Regions from separate parts of the Homo sapiens genome. Here region 2 is linked to region 1. A link means that fine-mapping ties the variant in region 1 to the expression of a gene that starts in the linked region. Tissue or cell type: whole blood. Region 1 holds a variant in brackets; the other region holds the start of a gene. All regions are shown on one strand. Distances are from middle to middle.

Evidence for each region. PIP is the estimated chance that this variant, and not a neighbour inherited with it, causes the effect.
Region 2: it holds the start of WDTC1, and the variant in region 1 is fine-mapped to the expression of WDTC1 in whole blood (TOPMed, PIP 0.95).

The regions. Positions count from the first base shown.
Region 1 is chr1:27,344,284-27,352,382 of GRCh38, reverse strand. SYTL1 (synaptotagmin like 1) reads right to left here. Exons shown (of 15, transcript NM_001193308.2): 2 at 6,858-7,086; 3 at 4,814-4,962; 4 at 4,503-4,575; 5 at 4,371-4,416; 6 at 3,231-3,303; 7 at 2,885-2,985; 8 at 2,618-2,731; 9 at 2,251-2,411; 10 at 1,898-1,994; 11 at 1,431-1,589; 12 at 1,047-1,125; 13 at 828-927. The coding sequence starts at 7,048. Among named protein-coding and RNA genes, the nearest start is that of SYTL1, 6.3 kb to the right of the region's middle. RefSeq lists silencers at 2,398-2,457, 2,558-2,867 and enhancers at 4,247-4,785, 4,786-5,326. The variant A/T (reference allele first, on the strand shown) is at 3,651.
Region 2 is chr1:27,230,943-27,239,041 of GRCh38, reverse strand. It overlaps WDTC1 (WD and tetratricopeptide repeats 1), which reads right to left and starts at 4,410. Exons shown (of 16, transcript NM_001276252.2): 1 at 4,091-4,410. It overlaps WDTC1-DT (WDTC1 divergent transcript), which reads left to right and starts at 4,613. Exons shown (of 3, transcript XR_947117.2): 1 at 4,613-4,780; 2 at 5,440-5,597. RefSeq lists silencers at 3,731-3,780, 3,941-3,990, 4,181-4,330, 4,531-4,590.

The DNA of each region.
Region 1 (8,099 bases):
CCACCACCCCTCCTCAAGCAGTTTCCAAGGTTTTTTTTTATTTTTTGAGATCGAGTCTCGCTCTGTTTTGCCCAGGTTGGAGTGCAGTGGCGTGATCTTGGTTCACTGCAACCTTCTGGGTTCGAGTGATTCTCCCGCCTCAGTCTCTCAAGTAGCTGGGATTACAGGCACCCACCACCACGCCCGGATAATTTCTTGTACTTTTGATAGAGATGGGGTTTCACCATGTTGGTCAGGCTGGTCTCAAACTCCTGACCTCAGGTGATCCACCCGCCTCAGCCTCTTAAAGTGCTGGGATTACAGGCATAAGCCACCGTGCCTGGCCTGTTTCCAAGGTTTTCAAAGCCTGGGAACCCCCTCTGCAAAATACAGTGTTGCTCAGAAGTACAGTACCTCTGTACTGCAGCCTCTGGCTGCATCAGAGTGGACACCCAGAAGTGACCCGCCCACCTCCATTTCACTCTCTAACAGTGGGGGCAGCACCTGGAGGCACCCCTAGAAGTCCCCTAGAAGCTTACACTGAACTATAAGTTCCCAGCCAAGCCCCACAGCCTGGCCTCCCAGGTTCTCTATGGAAGGACCCTTGCAGCCCTCAGCCTCAGCTTTTCAACAAGTCCTATAGGCGCCAGTCACGCTGAAATGCAGCTCCTCAAAGGTGTCCTCAACTTCCCTGACTCCAGGCCTTTGCTCAAACCGTCCCCTTCACCCCTGCTCAGTGGTGAAAGCCCAGGCTGCGTGATCAAAGGTTGATTAGTAAGGGTTTGTGGAGGTTGGGCACTCCACTGCAGGCAAAAGAATGGGAAGCCCGGAGGGCCAGCACTCCTCACCATTGTACGTAAGTGTCCAGGGATCCTGCCCGCAGCGGCAGGAGGTCCCGAGCCTCCTTCACCCAGAAGTGCAGCTCCCCGCTCGGGGGCAGTCCTGCGCCTGCGGAGAGGCTCGGCTCAGGCCCGCACACGGATGGAGTCCACCGCCCCCAAACCCGGGGACTGGAGTCTCCCGCTTTTCAGGGCGTGTCCAGCTTGGCCTCTCCGGCTGTCACTCACCCTCGGAGCCGGCGGGGACGTACTTGAGGGACAGGGCGAGTAACCCGCGGCTCGGAAGGTCGTCGGGAGAGGGTGGGACCTGCGAGAGGCGGGCTTATCGTGGAGCAGGGGCTAATGGAAAGGGGCCTCAGGAGGGTGGGGTCTGCAGACCCGGATGGGGTGCGGCTAGAAGAGACGGCGGGGCCTGCAGGGGCAGAACCTAGGGGTCCTAGCGCCCTCGGGGAAGGGGCCGTGGCCGGCCGGGCTTCGCCTGGGGCCATGAGGTTAAGAGGTTGAGGGGAGGTTCTGTCGAAGGCGGGGTGTGAGGGGGCTGCGGGAGAGCCTGGTGGGGTAAATGCAGGAGACCCGGGCCGCAGGTCTCCCCACGCGGCCTGGCTGCCTCACCCGGGGCTGCAGGGGGAGCCAGGTGGGCTCAGAGCCCCAGTCCCACGTGTCCAGGGGCACTTCAACTTCGCCCAGAAAGATGTTGCGACCCAGGCTTTCGCGGTGCCACACAGACAGGCTCAGCACGCGGCCCTGAAGCTCGGCCTGCGGGACGGAGTACTGAGGACAGGAGGTGAGCTTTAGTGGAGCACTGCTGGTGGCCCGCGTAGATGCTGCGCGAGTTGGCTGAGGCAGGTCCTACCGCGTTCCTACCATGATGGAATTCTGGGGAGCCCCTAAGGGCATTAATGGGGACCTGCACTATCACCACGCCCACCACGAGGCTGACAACACTGGATAACGAGTTAATGGGCCCCCTCCGCCGATCCTCCGGGCAATGACGTTACTGGCTGCCCTTGCCACCTAGCCCCGCAGGAAGGGGGCGTCCAGTTCATTAACGGGGAACCGCATCGTGGTCACAGCCTCACCCGGAGAGTCTCGTTGAAAACCGGATTCAGATTCCGTTTCTTCACCGCCGTCTTGCGCTTGCTCTGCTTATCCGGGAGGAGGTAGCTTTTGACGTAGCTGGGGAGGTGAGAACCCGAGGTGAGGAGGGGCCCTCCCAGAGCCTTCTCCCCTGCCTGTGGGCTCCCCCAGCCACCATCCCGAACACGTGCCAGGCCTCGTGCTAAGCGCTTTACAGGGATTGTCTCGCTTAATCGCACGCCTCCCAATAACGCTGTTGTTCCCATTTTGAAGATGAGGACGAGGAGGCCGAGACCCTGTGAATGGTGGGCTGGGCTGTGACAGCCGCGCCCCGCTTGGCCGGCGGGGCACTCACGGGTCCGAGCGGCGGCGCCGGGCGGCGGCCAGGCCCTGGCACTGGATCACGTGCACGCGCAGCTCGGCGGCGCCCGGCTCGTAGTGCAGCGCGAAGTGCACGGAGCCGCGGACCTGCACCGCCTCCGCGTCGCCTGACAGGCTCATCTGGCTGCCGCTCAGCTGCGGACGGGAGTGGGTGGGAGTCAGGGCCGCTCGCAGGGCTCACGTCGGGGCCGCGGGCAGCGCGGAGGCTTCAGACCCGGGTCATAGGTGGCAGGCTGGGGGGCTGCAGCGGTGGGTCCCGCGGCGAGGGAGGGGCAGGCAGGGGCTACGCATCGGAACGGGTCCACCCCCCGGCCGCCCGGGTCCCCTCCCTCCCGCCTCACCGTGGAGGAGTTAAGGCTGGACACCGAGGAGCTGCTGCTGAGCATGCGGTCGAGAGAGGGGTCGGGCCCCGGGGCCTCCTCCCCATTCTCCAGGATCTGGGACGCGGCCTTGGTCTGCAGAGGGGGCAAGTGACGGGGCGCCCCTTCTTTCCCCACCCCTGCCCCGAGCGCCCTGGGTCGCGGGCGGCTCGCAGCCCTGGGCAGGAGCGCTCCCCGCCCGGAGTCCGCTCCGGATGTTGAGAGCAGCCACGGGCCACTCCCGCCTACCTGGGCTTGCTGGGGCCGCGGCTCCTGCTCTCCCCCCGACGCGGGCTCCAGCTCCGGGTCAGCCTCCTCGGCACAGACCTGTTGGTCTCCTTGGCCAGGATCTGGGGTGGGGCACGAGATGCTAAGCGAGCCCTCTCCTGCCCTCCCCTAAGCAAATTTGTAGGAACTGGTTTACAACCCCAGCGAGCTGCAGATTCAGGCCCCGGTGCTGCCCTGGGATCGTCCCCACCTCCGACGCGGGGTGGGAGTGGGGGTGACGAGGGTGAACACAGGTGGTTGGGGCCCCTTAGAGCTGCCTCTGACCCGCGAAACCTCTCCGTGCTCCCCAACAGGCGCTCCCACTCACCTTCCTGGGCCTGGGACGCCTCCTCAGGATCTGAAGCCTTTAGGGGGACAGAAGGCGATGGGAAATCAGGTCCCTGAAGGAAGAAAGGGGTAGAGGTCACAGTACGGGGGCTGGTGAGGAAGAGGTCAAAGGTCATATTGGGGTCAGAGGTCATAGGGCTCCAGCCAGCTACCCCAGTTTCAGGTTTAGGGCAGCCCTCCGGGCAGGGCTGGCAGCCAGCTGCAGGAGCGGTGAGACCAGTGCTTCACAGCCCACCCCGCAGGGCTTGTGCCGCCTGACTCCCTACTCCCATTGGTGGGGTCATTCGTACCTGAGTCCTCCACCTCTGCCAGGCCAGGCCAGTCCCATTCCTTTCTCACTCCTTTTTTTATTTTTATTTTTTATATTGACCCATTGGTAGACAACCTTTTTTCTTTTTTT[A/T]AATTTATTCTTATTATTTTTAATTGAGACAGAGTTTCACTCTTGTTGCCCAGGCTAGAGTGCAATGGTGTGATCTTGGCTCACTGCAACCTCCGCCTCCTGGGTTCAAGCGATTCTCCTGCCTCAGCCTCCCAGTAGCTGAGATTCCAGGTTATGCACCATCATGCCCAGCTAATTTTGTATTTTTAGTAGAGATGGGGTTTCTCCATGTTAGTCAGGCTGGTCTTGAGCTCCTGACCTCAGGTGATCTCGGCTTCCCAAAGTGCTGGGATTATAGGCGTGAGCTGCCACGACCGGCCTTTTTTTTTTATTTATTTTTTATAGACATGGGGGGCATTTTGCTATGTTGCCCAGGCTGGTCTTGAACTCCTCGGCTCAAGCGATCCTCCCACATCAGCCTCCCAAAATGCTGGGATTACAGGCATGAGCCACCGTGCCTGGCCCCACTTCACCCCTTAATAGCCAGATTCAGAAGTTCCCTTAGAGGCTGGGTCCATATACCACTCACTGTTCACCACCGTTCACCACTGTTTACCACCATTCACCACCGTTCCCCACCGTTCACCACTGTTCCACCCAGGAGGTGATGAGGTGCAGACACAGGAAGGAACATTTCCAGGGTCTCCCCATTCCCAGGCTGGGGCTCTTTCCCCCCTGCCCCCTGCACATTCCACCTCCCCTCCAGGGACACTGTACTCACATGTTGGCTCATTCACTTACCTCAGTCTCCCTGAGCCTCTCCTGAGGGGCCTCATCAATGGTGAGCCTAGGAGTAGGGAGAGGACGCTCTCAGAGGGAGGGACCCTGGTGACTGGTGGGCACCATCTCCCCCTTCCTGAGACTCCTCCTCACCTGGGCTCTGGCCCCTCTTCCTTCTCTTTCACAGCAGCCTCAGCCTCCCTGTCGTGGCCTGGAGCCTGGTCTCCTGGGCGCAGGTGAGAAGTTCTGTGAGCCCCCATGCTCAGGAAGCCTGGCTGTGACTCGGGAGAGGCCCTGGGAGATACCCACCCACCCCATGCCCACGGAGGGGCATTGCCCACTGAAAGACACACAGTACTGGGGGCAGCCAGGACTGGAGCCCTAGTGGTCCTCTCTCCCTGTCCACATACAGCCAGCGCCCTGGACGGCACATGGCTTGCCCTGCCCCGAGGATCTCCTCTCACCCCTGGTGCTCTTCTTCCTGCGCATAGACGCTCGGACAAGGTCAGAGCCGAAGTGGGCATTGTGGTGCCGCTGGGAGCGTGCTTCCTGGAACCAGTCCCCTGTCAGGATCTTCAGCTGCCCAGGGTCTGCCACTGAGGCCCGGAGCTTGCTGGAGGAAGGGGGAGGGTGTGGCTGTCATGACTCACCCAAGCAACATTCCCGCCACCTACATTGTTAACAGGCTTGGGACCAGGGGCCAGGGACCCAACAGCAAATCAGACTTGATCTGTGCTGTGGAGGAGCTCGGGCTGCTGGGGAGACCAAGTCCAGAAGAGACAAGTACACTGTAGTGAGGTGGATGATGTGATAGAAGTAAGAAGAGCCAGCTCTGCCTGTGAGAATCCAGGAGGGCTTCCCAGAGGAGGTGACATTTGAATTGCCTTTATTTATTTATTTACTTAATTATTTTGAGATGGAGTCTCCCTCTATGCCCAGGCTGGAGTGCTGTGGCGCAATCTCAGCTCACTGCAACCTTCACCTTCCAGGCTCAAGTGATCCTCCCACCTCAGCCTCCTGAGTAGCTGGGACTACAGGCGTGTGCCACCATGCCCAGCTAATTTTTTATATATTTTTTTGTAGAGACGGGGCTTTTCCATGTTGCCCAGGCTGGTCTCTAACTCCTGGACTCAAGCAATCCACCTGCCTCAGCCTCCCACAATGTTGTAAGTCACTGTGCCCAGCCTTGAATTTCTTCTTAAAAGACAAATTGGAACTCTCCAGGTAGAGAAGGATAATAATTATTATACTTTTAATTTTATTATTTTTTTTTGAGACAGGGTCTTGCTCTGTTGCCCGGGCTGGAGTGCAGTGGCATGATCATGGCTCATTGCAGCCTGACCTCCTGGGTTCAAGCAATCCTCTCACCTCAGCTGCCTAAATAGCTGGGACTACAGGCGCACACCACCACGCCAGGCTAATTTTTTATATTTTGTAGGAATGGGGTCTCACTGTGTTGTCCAGGCTGGTCTTGAATTCCTGGGCTCAAGCAATCCTCCCGTCTCAGCCTCTCAAAGTGCTAGGATTACAGGCGTTGCCACTATCTCTGGCCAATTCCTCTTAAATCAGTGAAGTAGGACTCCTTAGCCCCATTTTACAGACGACGAGCATGGTGCTCAAGGAGGTCAGGTGAGTTGCCAAGGCTACGTAGCTAGGAAGTGTCTGTCCCCAAACATTGCTTGTAACGCCCATGCTCTTCTACAACTGTGCTCTTCCAGGAAGAAGTACCAGCATAGGCATAGAAGTGAAGAGTGGGTTCAGGGACTGGGGAGCACCTGAGTGGCTGGAGGGGTCACTTTGTGTCTGTGTGTCGGGTCGGAGTTATGGTGAAAGAGGAGATGGTGGGGGCTGGCAAGGACCGACCAGGGAGGCCCAGTGGACCATGCCTAGGAGCTTGCCCTTGATACTGGGGAGCCAGGGGAAGTTTTCAGCGGGGATATTAAGGACGGATCTGGCCAGGCACGGTGGCTCGCGTCTGTAATCCCAGCACTTTGGGAGGCTGAGGCGGGTGGATCATCTGAGATCAGAGGTTCAAGACCAGCTTGGCCAACATGGCGAAAACCCATCTCTACTAAAAATACAAAAATTAGCTGGGCATGGTGGCATGTGCCTATAATCCCAGCTATTTGGGAGGCTGTGGCAGGAGAATCGCTTGAACCCGGAGGGGTGGAGGTTGCAGTGAGCCAAGATTGTGCCACTTCACTCCAGCCTGGGCGAAAAAATGAAACTCTGTCTCAAGAAAAAAAAAAAAAAGCAGACAGATCTGGGGAGCACCAGCTGCAGGAGGTGGGCCCAAGAGGCAAGCCTGGAGGCAGGGAGGCTGGCGAGAAAGCTGGTGCAGTCACCCCTGGAGAAGTGATGAGCTGTGAGCTGGCCAAGGCCAGAGGAGACTGAAGGGCAAAACCAAGAACCACGCAGACATCTGACAGGCAGTGGTGTCGGTAGGGAGCAGGATGGGGGCCACTCAAGCCTCTTGGTGCTCCCCGGCCAGGGTCTGCCCTGCCTTACCTGACCCGCCCCTCCTCCAGCTGGCGCAGGCGGGCATCTCGTTGGAGGACGCCAGCAATGGCCTCCTGCTCCTCCTCTGTCAGGAAGCTGAGGTCCAACAGTCCTTCAGTCTCAGGCTTTGGCCCATGCGCCATGGGGAGGGAGGGCAGAGCCCAAAGCCCCTCTTGCGATGGGTGGCCCCTCTGGGGCATCAGCTGGGGCTGTGCCCCAGCTGGGCACACGGAGCTTCCTGGGGGCAGACCGAGGGTCAGGTCAAGCCCTGCACAAATGCTTGGCACATCCTAGAACCAACAGCCCTTTTCTCCCCAAACACTTGGCCGGGTATGGGTAGGGTGCCACCCCAGGATGGCTGAGCTCAAGGTGGGGTGAGAGACACTCATGCACACATGCATACACTAGCCCTTGAACACACTTGGAGACACAGTGGAAGAAGCAAGAGACACACATGCACACACCCTGAGGTAGGGCCACACAGGACTGCAGCGATGGAACACACAGACACATGTGCACACGCGGGTCCATGTAGGCATAGATATGGTCGCACATGCACACAGACACCTGCATAAAGACAGGCGCATGCACAGCTGTTCCCCCAGAAAGGGCCCTCTGCAGACACAGACCCGGACCCATGCCCACGAGAGACATGCACACACATTCTTTTTTTTTTTTTTTTTTTTTTTTTTGAGGAGTCTTGCTTTGTTGCCCAGGCTGGAGTACAGTGGCACGATCTCATCTCACTGCAACCACTGCCTGACGGGTTCAAACCTCCTGCCTCAGCCTCCTGAGTAGCTGGGATTATAGGCACGCACCATCACGCCCAGCTAATTTTTGTATTTTTAGTAGAGACGGGGTTTGACCATGTTGGCCAGGCTGGCCTCGAACTCCTGACCTCATGATCTGCCAGCCTCAGCCTCCCAAAGTGCTGGGAGTACAGGCGTGAGCCACCACGCCCGGCCCTACACATGTTCTTAAATCTGCACACAGTGGCCAGGCGCGGTGGCTCACGCCTGTAATCCCAACACTTTGGGAGGCCAAGGTGGGCCGATCACCTGAGGTCAGGAGTTCAAGACCAGCCTGGCCAACATGGTGAAACCCCCTTCTCTACTAAAAATACAAAAATTATGGCCAGATACAGTGGCTCACCCCTGTAATCCCAGCACTTTGGGATGCCAAGGCGGGCAGATCACCTGAGGTCAGGAGTTTGAGACCAGCCTGACCAACACGGAGAAACCCCGTCTCTAC
Region 2 (8,099 bases), 110 kb after region 1:
CTTCCCATCTACCCTGTCTCATAAAAAAAAAAAAAAAAAAAAAGCCAGGAGCGGTGGCTCATGCCTGTAATCCTAGCACTTTGGGAGACCGAGGCAGGTGGAACTCAGGAGTTCAAGACCAGCCTGGGCAACATGGCAAAACCCTGTCTCTAATAAAAATACAAAAAAATTAGCCGGGGCTGGGCGCGGTGTCTCACACCTGTAATCCCAGCACTTTGGGAGGCTGAGGCGGGCGGATCACCTGAGGTCAGGAGTTCAAGACCAGTCTGGTCAACATGGTGAAACCCCATCTCTACAAAAATACAAAAATTAGATGGGCGTGGTGGTACATGCCTATAATTCCAGCTACTTGGGAGGCTGAGGCATGAGAATCACTTGAACCTGGGAGGCAGAGGTTGCAGTGAGCCGAGATCATGCCACTGCACTCCAGCCTGGAAGATGAAGTGAGGCATGGGAATCACTTGAACCTGGGAGGCAGAGGTTGCAGTGAGCTGAGATCATGCCACTGCACTCCAGCCTGGATGACGAAGTAAGACTCTGTCTCAAAGAAAAAAAAAAGATGTGGCAAACTCTCTGCTTGAATATCTGCAATGATGGGTAACTCACTCCCTCACAAGGCAGCCCATTTTGTTTTTAGAAAGCTACATTATCTCCTATCAAACCAAAGTCTACCTTCTTGGAAATTATGTCATTTAATCCTGAGATGCCTTCTAGAATCACAGAGAACATCCAGTTTCCTTTCCCCATGACAATCTTCAAGTATTTGAATGAGGTATCATGTTCCCCCAGGCTCTTAGCCTTGGTCTTTTCAGTTCTTCTTCATGTGTCACAGTCCCAGAGGCAATTCAATATCACAGAGCAGAGAGACCTGGGTTTGAATTCCAGTCCTTCCTCTTACTTGCTGTGTGACCTTAAGCAAATAACTTAATTTCTCTGAATCTGTTTCTTCATAGGTATAATAGGGAAAATGATTCTCACCTCACAGGACAGTCATGAAGGTTACACTGGATAAAGTAAAAATACTAGCTAGCACTGAGCTCAAGATATACCAGGCCCTGAATAAAATGTCAGTCACTTTTTAGGACATATCCCAACTGGCAAATACCTCTCAAAGTAAATTAACTACACCAAGGAACTGGCTTCTTTCTTTTTTTTCTTTTCTTTTCTTTTTTTTTTTTTTGAGATGGAGTTTCACTTTTGTTGCCCAGGCTGGAGTGCAATGGCACGATCACAGCTCACCGCAACCTCCACCTCCTGGGTTCAAGCGATTTTCCTGCCTTAGTAGGAAAATCCCTCCTGAGTAGCTGGGACTACAGGCGCGTGCCACCATGCCCGGCTAATTTTTTTTGTATTTTTAGTAGAGATGGGGTTTCACCGTGTTAGCCAGGATGGTCTCAATCTCCTGACCTCGTGATCTGCCCACCTCAGCCTCCCAAAGTGCTGGGATTACAGGCGTGAGCCACCGCGCTCAGCCAGGAACTGGTTTCTAATAGCAACTGCCAGAACTTTGGCTTTTCAAGAGATGACAGCTAAGAAAGTACAACCTAAGGGTTTTGTGGGCCCAGCAATCTGCAATGGCAGCCTAAAGATACAGTGGAGCATCTGGAAAGGTGAGGTGGAAAGAAGAAAGGAAACAGAATAGATAACTAAACCAGTGACCCAAAGAAAACACAAGTATCACCAGATTACATGTTCTGTTTGACTTCCTCTCTGAGACTCAGAACTGCACATGTCAGCAACATTCCTTAATTTTTAAAAAGAGAGAAGAGAGTGGTCACGGAGGCCGTGTCTGTAGTCCCAGCTACTAGGAAGGCAGAGGTACGAGAATCCCTTGAGCTCAGGAGTTTGAGACCAGCCCAGGCAACAGAGTGAGACCCCATCTCAAAAAAATAAAAATAAAAGGAGAGGCCAGGTGCGGTGGCTCACACCTGTAATCCCAGCACTCTGGGAGGCCGAGGTCGGTGGATCACGAGGTCAGGAGTTCAAGACCAGCCTGGCCAAGATGGTGAAACCCCATCTCTACTAAAAATACAAAAATTAGCTGGGCATGGTGGCAGGCACCTGCAATCCCAGCTACTTGGGAGGCTGAAGCAGAGAATTGCTTGAACCCAGGAGGCTGAGGTTGCAGTGAGCTGAGATCGCGCCACTGCACTTCAGCCTGGGCAACAGAGCAAGACTCCATCTCAAAAAATAAATAAATAAATACATACATACATAAAGGAGAAAAAAATAAAAATAATTAAAGACCAAGTCATAGTCTAGATCTTCCTTAGCAGTTGGCCCAAGATCCACAAATGTTTGGCAGTGGGCTTCAAGATTTTCAGTTGTCTTTCCAGATCCTAAAGTCTAGGTGTGCAAAAACACCCTACATAAGATGCCCAATGAGTCAATACTGAACTCCTCCCGGCTAAAAAAAACTGTCAATTGTATGAAACTGGTAAATAGTTGTTAACATCATCATCATAATATTTACACGTGTTCTCTCTTTCCCTCGTGACCCTCAATGAAGGTGTCCCAGGCAGAAATATGGGCTACTGCTCAATTATTCGGCAGAGTTGATCCAAAAGCACTGTTCCTTCAAATTGAGATAAGACTCGAACAGAAGTGCTCCCATATAGGTCAAAAAAGGAAAGGAGAGCAGGACTCCAGCCTTAAAGCAGCATGATCACAAACTATGACGGAAAAGGTCATTTCCCACCTGCCAACGAAATACAACAACCTACAATGAAGAAACCTCAGTAAGTCTCAGACTTGGCCCAAAGGAGCCCAACTAGTTACTCCCTGGTCTGTTACAGAGGATCTGGCTATTACACTCAACAGCAAAAATTCAATTCAATCCCGCTAAAGATATAAGAATCACAAGGAAGAATAAGCCAGAACTCAAGACAGAAATAGCATTAAGTAGTTCCTTCAGTACAGTGAGCAGAAGCTGGCCACTCAACGACTCTAAAAGACACAGAAAAGCTTAGTAGGGACCACTGGGCATACCGGTGTCCTAGGTGGGGATTTCGTAACGTCTTTGAGTCAGAAGCTGCCCTCAAAATAGTTTCTTCTCAAAACGGTTTCAGGCTTTGTTAGAAAGGGAAGACTTCACTGCCACTTTACCCAGATCATCTACCCCATCCTTGGAATGAATGGGGAAGCTTCAGCCACCCTACCAGGCTCCTAAAATCACCAACTTGAGAGAAAAACTATAACGTTGCTCTACCAGTACTTCAGGAGGTTAAAGAAAGTCACAGAAGAAAAGAACTCTGGGGAAAACAGTCAAATTCGGCTATTAAGACATTAGTTACAGGCCCCTGTACCTCTCCTCTAGAAACCCTGGGAGTACACCCGCAGAGGAGAGAGAGCCCAAGCCACCAAGCAAAGTCAACCAATCTGGCAAAGGGGCGTCCCACTGCGGCTTTCAGTCCAAGAAGTGGATCCTGCTGGTTCGCAGTCTCTCTTCTATCTCCTCACTTCCTATTTACCCTTTGAAGTGGGTACTGAATAGCCCGTTCCCAAGCAGAGGCCCTTTGTATACGGGGTGCTACAGTCGCCTGGTGGAAACACCTTGGCAGAGTTGTTTGGTGCCAGGATGGGCCACTGAAGGCATCTGCTGTGGACACACACACACACACACACACACACACACACACACACACACAGAAAGAGAGAGAGAAAAACAGAAAGAGAGAGAGCGAGAAGCTAAGAGGGCAGGTCAGGTCGGCGTTGCCCTCCCAGCACTTACACCTGCCCCTTCTTCCTGACTCCGGCGCCAGATCAGATGTCAAACAAAAACTCCGCAAAAAAGTCCCATGATGGAATGACTTCCACCTCTCCCTCCGCAGAGCCTCCCCGGACTCCCACAGCCTCCCCCCGCGTCCCGACCAAACCCTCCGCCCCCACCCCGCCCCCGGACCACTCTGCCCTCCGCCCCGGCGAGGCCTGGCCCCTCTCGGGACACCCGGGGCCCCGAGGCGGGTAGGCTCAGGCCCCCAGGCCGGCAGGGCTGGAGCCGGCCCAGAGCGGGCGGCCCGTTCACCGGGGCTGCGGGAGCCGGTCCCCGCCTCGGCGCCCGCGGAGGGCAGGGGGCGGCGGTGACCCGTACCTGTCAGGTCTCTTCCCCCGACCGGCAGCGGCGCAACTTCAGGAGCCCATGTCCGTCCGGGGGGGGCGGCCCCTCTCCCGGGAAGGGGGGCGCGGATCCCGGGGAGGGGGCTGGGGGGCTCGAGCAGTTCTAGCCCCTTCCCATGCTCCCCGCCCGGCGCCTGGCCGGGGCCGGACAGCGCCTCCGCCCGCCCCTGCGCACCGCCTCACACCCGCGCTCACACACACTCACACTCCCTCGCGCGCTCTCACACACGCACTCCCCTCCCTCCTCCTCCTCTGTTTATCTCCTCCAGCTGTCTGGGGACCCAGGAGAAGCCCAGCAACGCGCCTGCGCCACGCAGTCTCCGCCTCCGCCCTGCGCCTCGCAGCCGGCGGGTACGCTACGAAGACTGCGCCCGGCCGCTTCCAGAATGGCTAGCCGGGCCCCCCCACTTACCCCCCCGCGCCCGGTCAACGTCTGCTGCCGGCGGCGCCCACTAACCTGCTAGTGGGGGAGCCCCGCACCGCCGTGGCCAATGGGCTTCGCCGCTTGCGGGACCGGCAGCCAGTGGGCGGGCGGGAAAGCTGGGCTAAGCCCTGGGGCACCCTGGGAGTCGTAGTTTTTCGCCGTCGAGGAGTTCCTGCAGAGCGGGCTCACCCCGCCCGGTTGCCATTAGTTACCCGGACGCACCTCCCACCCCACCACCGGGTAAAACGCTCCTCACACCGCTTCTGGGACACCCGCCCACACGCTCGCCCACTGAACCCCAGGTCCCCTCACAGCCCCTTAAGAGCTCCTAAGACTTCCTCTCAGCCCCCGAATTCTGGGACCTCTCAGGCTAGGGCCCCGGGGGGCTCCTCAGCCCACTCCTTCCTGCTCTGGGGGGCTGCTGAAGTGGCACAGTCCTCACTGACGTCTCCTGGGCCTTAAGGAAGAGAATGAAAGAGAATCGGGCCTACGCTGAGTAGCCTGGAGAGGAGTCAGCCACACACACTCTGGGTGCCCTCGGGGTGATGGGAGCGACTAGGTCCATCTGACCCTAGCGGAGTCACTGCTGCTCCCACCTCTGAGGAAGAGACGCAGTTCCAGCCTTGTGGAGTCCCGGGTCTGATGGAGGAGAGACCCTCCTCTTTATTAAGGAAGTTCCCAAGGTGACAAGGGTGGCACTAAGCCTATCTTCTTAAGGCAGAGACCAGGCCCCACCCGTGAAACCTCAAGTCAGAAAGGGAAGACGTGTCACCTTCTGACAAAGGAAACTTGTCACCCATAGGGTGCCATTTGTCAGATACTAACAATAATTCACTTTTATTCGCACTGGATTGGGTACAGTCTCTTAGCTAGGTACTATTGCTGTCTGTGTTTTGCAGAAAAGGAAAGCTGAAGCAGAAAGGCTAAAAGCAACTTGCCCCCGGGGTCCTGATAAGTTGGCAAATTGGGAATTAGACCCAGATCTGCCTGACACCAGAGTCTGAGCCTTTTAACACTGCCTGTCTTTCCTGTGAAAACCAGACAGCACCCGCTCTCAGTAAGGACTGAATATATGTATTTGGCATTTATAGTGTTTATCACTCCATGTGTCGCTTGTTTTTTTTTTTTTTTTTTTTTTTTTTTTCCAATTCTGCTCACATCATGAGTACGAATTTGTCTGTGAATACCTGAATACTCCCAGAGACAAAGGTAGTATTCTAATTGCTGGTGATTTCTCCGCAAGGGAGATTTCTCCCCATTTAGAGGAGTAAGAACCTATCCTTGTGAAACCGCTCACAAAGCCTTTTATGCCTTTCTCCTAAAAATATTGTGGGTCATTCCCCCTGAACTCTCCACCACAGCTGTTCTACTGAATATAAAAAATCATAGACTTTGGGACTAGAAGAAAGCTTTGAGATCATCTATCTGCAGCTCCCCAGGTTCAGGCTGCAACCTTGGTTAGGGTCATTGGGTTAATTAAACTGAATAATATCTAACATTTATTGAATACTTACCATGGGAGATAAGTGCTACTAGTGAATTAAGAAATACTCCCGGGCTGGGCGCGGTGGCTCACGCCTGTAATCCCAGCACTTTGGGAGGCAGAGGCGGGCGGATCACGAGATCAGGAGATAGAGACCACCTGGCTAACACGGTGAAACCCCATCTCTACTAAAAATACAAAAAAATTAGCCGGGCGTGATGGTGGGCGCCTGTAGAACCAGCTACTCGGGAGGCTGAGGCAGGAGAATGGCGTGAACCCGGGAGGCGCAGCTTGCAGTGAGCCGAGATCGCGTCACTGCACTCCAGCCTGGGCGACAGAGCGAGACTCCGTCTCAAAAAAAAAAAAAAAAAAAAAAGTAAAAGAAAAAGAAACACTCCCGGCCGGGCGCGGTGGCTCACGCCTGTAATACCAGCACTTTGGGAGGCCAAGGGCGGGTGGATCGCCTGAGGTCGGGAGTTCAAGACCAGCCTGGCCAGCATGGTGAAACCCCGTCTCTACTAAAAATACAAAAATTAGCCGGGCGTGGTGGCGCGTGCCTGTAATCCCAGCTACTCAGGAGGCTGAGGCAGGAGAATCACTTGAATCCTAGAGGCGAAGGTTGCAGTGAGCCGAGGTCGTGCCACTGCACTCCAGCCTGAGCAACAGAGAGAGACTCCATCTCAAAAAAAGAAAAAAGAAAAGAAAGAAAGACAGACTCCCACAATCACATAGCTAGGAAGTGGTACAGTTGGGATTAAAGCCTACACTATTCAAATCCAGAACCCTCATTTTTAAATCATTTTAGCATCCTGTGTTTTTGGCAGAGACCACCCCCCCCCCCACTTTTTTCTTCTTTTTTTGAGACAGAGTCTTGCTCTGTCGCCCAGGCTGGAGTGCAGTGGGGCAATCTCTGCTCACTGCAAGCTCTGCCTCCCGGGTTCACACCATTCTCCTGCCTAAGCCTCCCGAGTAGCTGGGACTACAGGCGCCCGCCACCAGTTTGTCATTTCATTTAGTACAGACGGGGTTTCACCGTACTAGCCAGGATAGTCTCGATCTCCTGACCTCGTGATCCACCCGCCTCTGCCTCCCAAAGTGCTGTCACTACAGACATGAGCCACCGCGCCCGGCCAGAGAACCCCCATTTTAAAGTCTTGTTTAATGCTGGCAAGGTCACAGAGGATCTTAGATATACTGATAGAGAAGAGTGGGTGATGTTTCTGTGACTCCTAGCACAGTCTATGGCACATAGCAGAAACTCAGTAAATATTTGTTGTCAGAATGAACTTTCGTTGGTAGAGACTGATGACAGGAAGAAGACTATTTCTTTTGAGACGGAGTCTTGCTCTGTCGCCCAGGCTGGAGTATAGTGGTGCAATCTCGGCTCACTGCAACCTCTGCCTCCTGGGTTCAAGCGATTCTCCTGTCTCAGCCTCCCGAGTAGCTGGGACTACAGGCACATGCCACGACGCCCGGCTAATTTTTGTATTTTTAGTAGAGATAGGGTTTCACCATAATTGGTCAGGCTGGTCTCAAACTCCTGATCGCAGGTGATCCACCTGCCTTGGCCTCTCAAAGTGCTGGGATTAGAGGCATGAGCCACCTCGCCCCACCAGGAAGAAGACTATTAACAACTGCAGTTACTATTTATTATTTTCTAATAGATACCACTCGTACTCTTACACTTGCTTGAGTTTCTCTCTTTCTCACTTCCTCTCTCTCCATATAGGCAGAGACCTATACATAAATCTATACATACATATGTGTACACGCACGCACACACACCCATATACATTAACACACACTAACTCATTTGCTTCTCCCAACCACGTTGTGAGTTAGGTATGATTCTTACTCCCATTTTACATAGAAGAAACAGAGACTCGGCCAGGCATGGAGGCTCACGCCTGTAATCCCAACGTTTTGGTTCCAGACCAGCGTGGGCAATACGGCAAAATCCTGTCTCTACAAAAAATATAAACATTGGCCAGGCGCGGTGGCTCACGCCTGTAATCCCAGCACTCTGGGAGGCCGAAGCAGGCAGATCACGAGATCAGGAGTTCGAGACCAGACTGG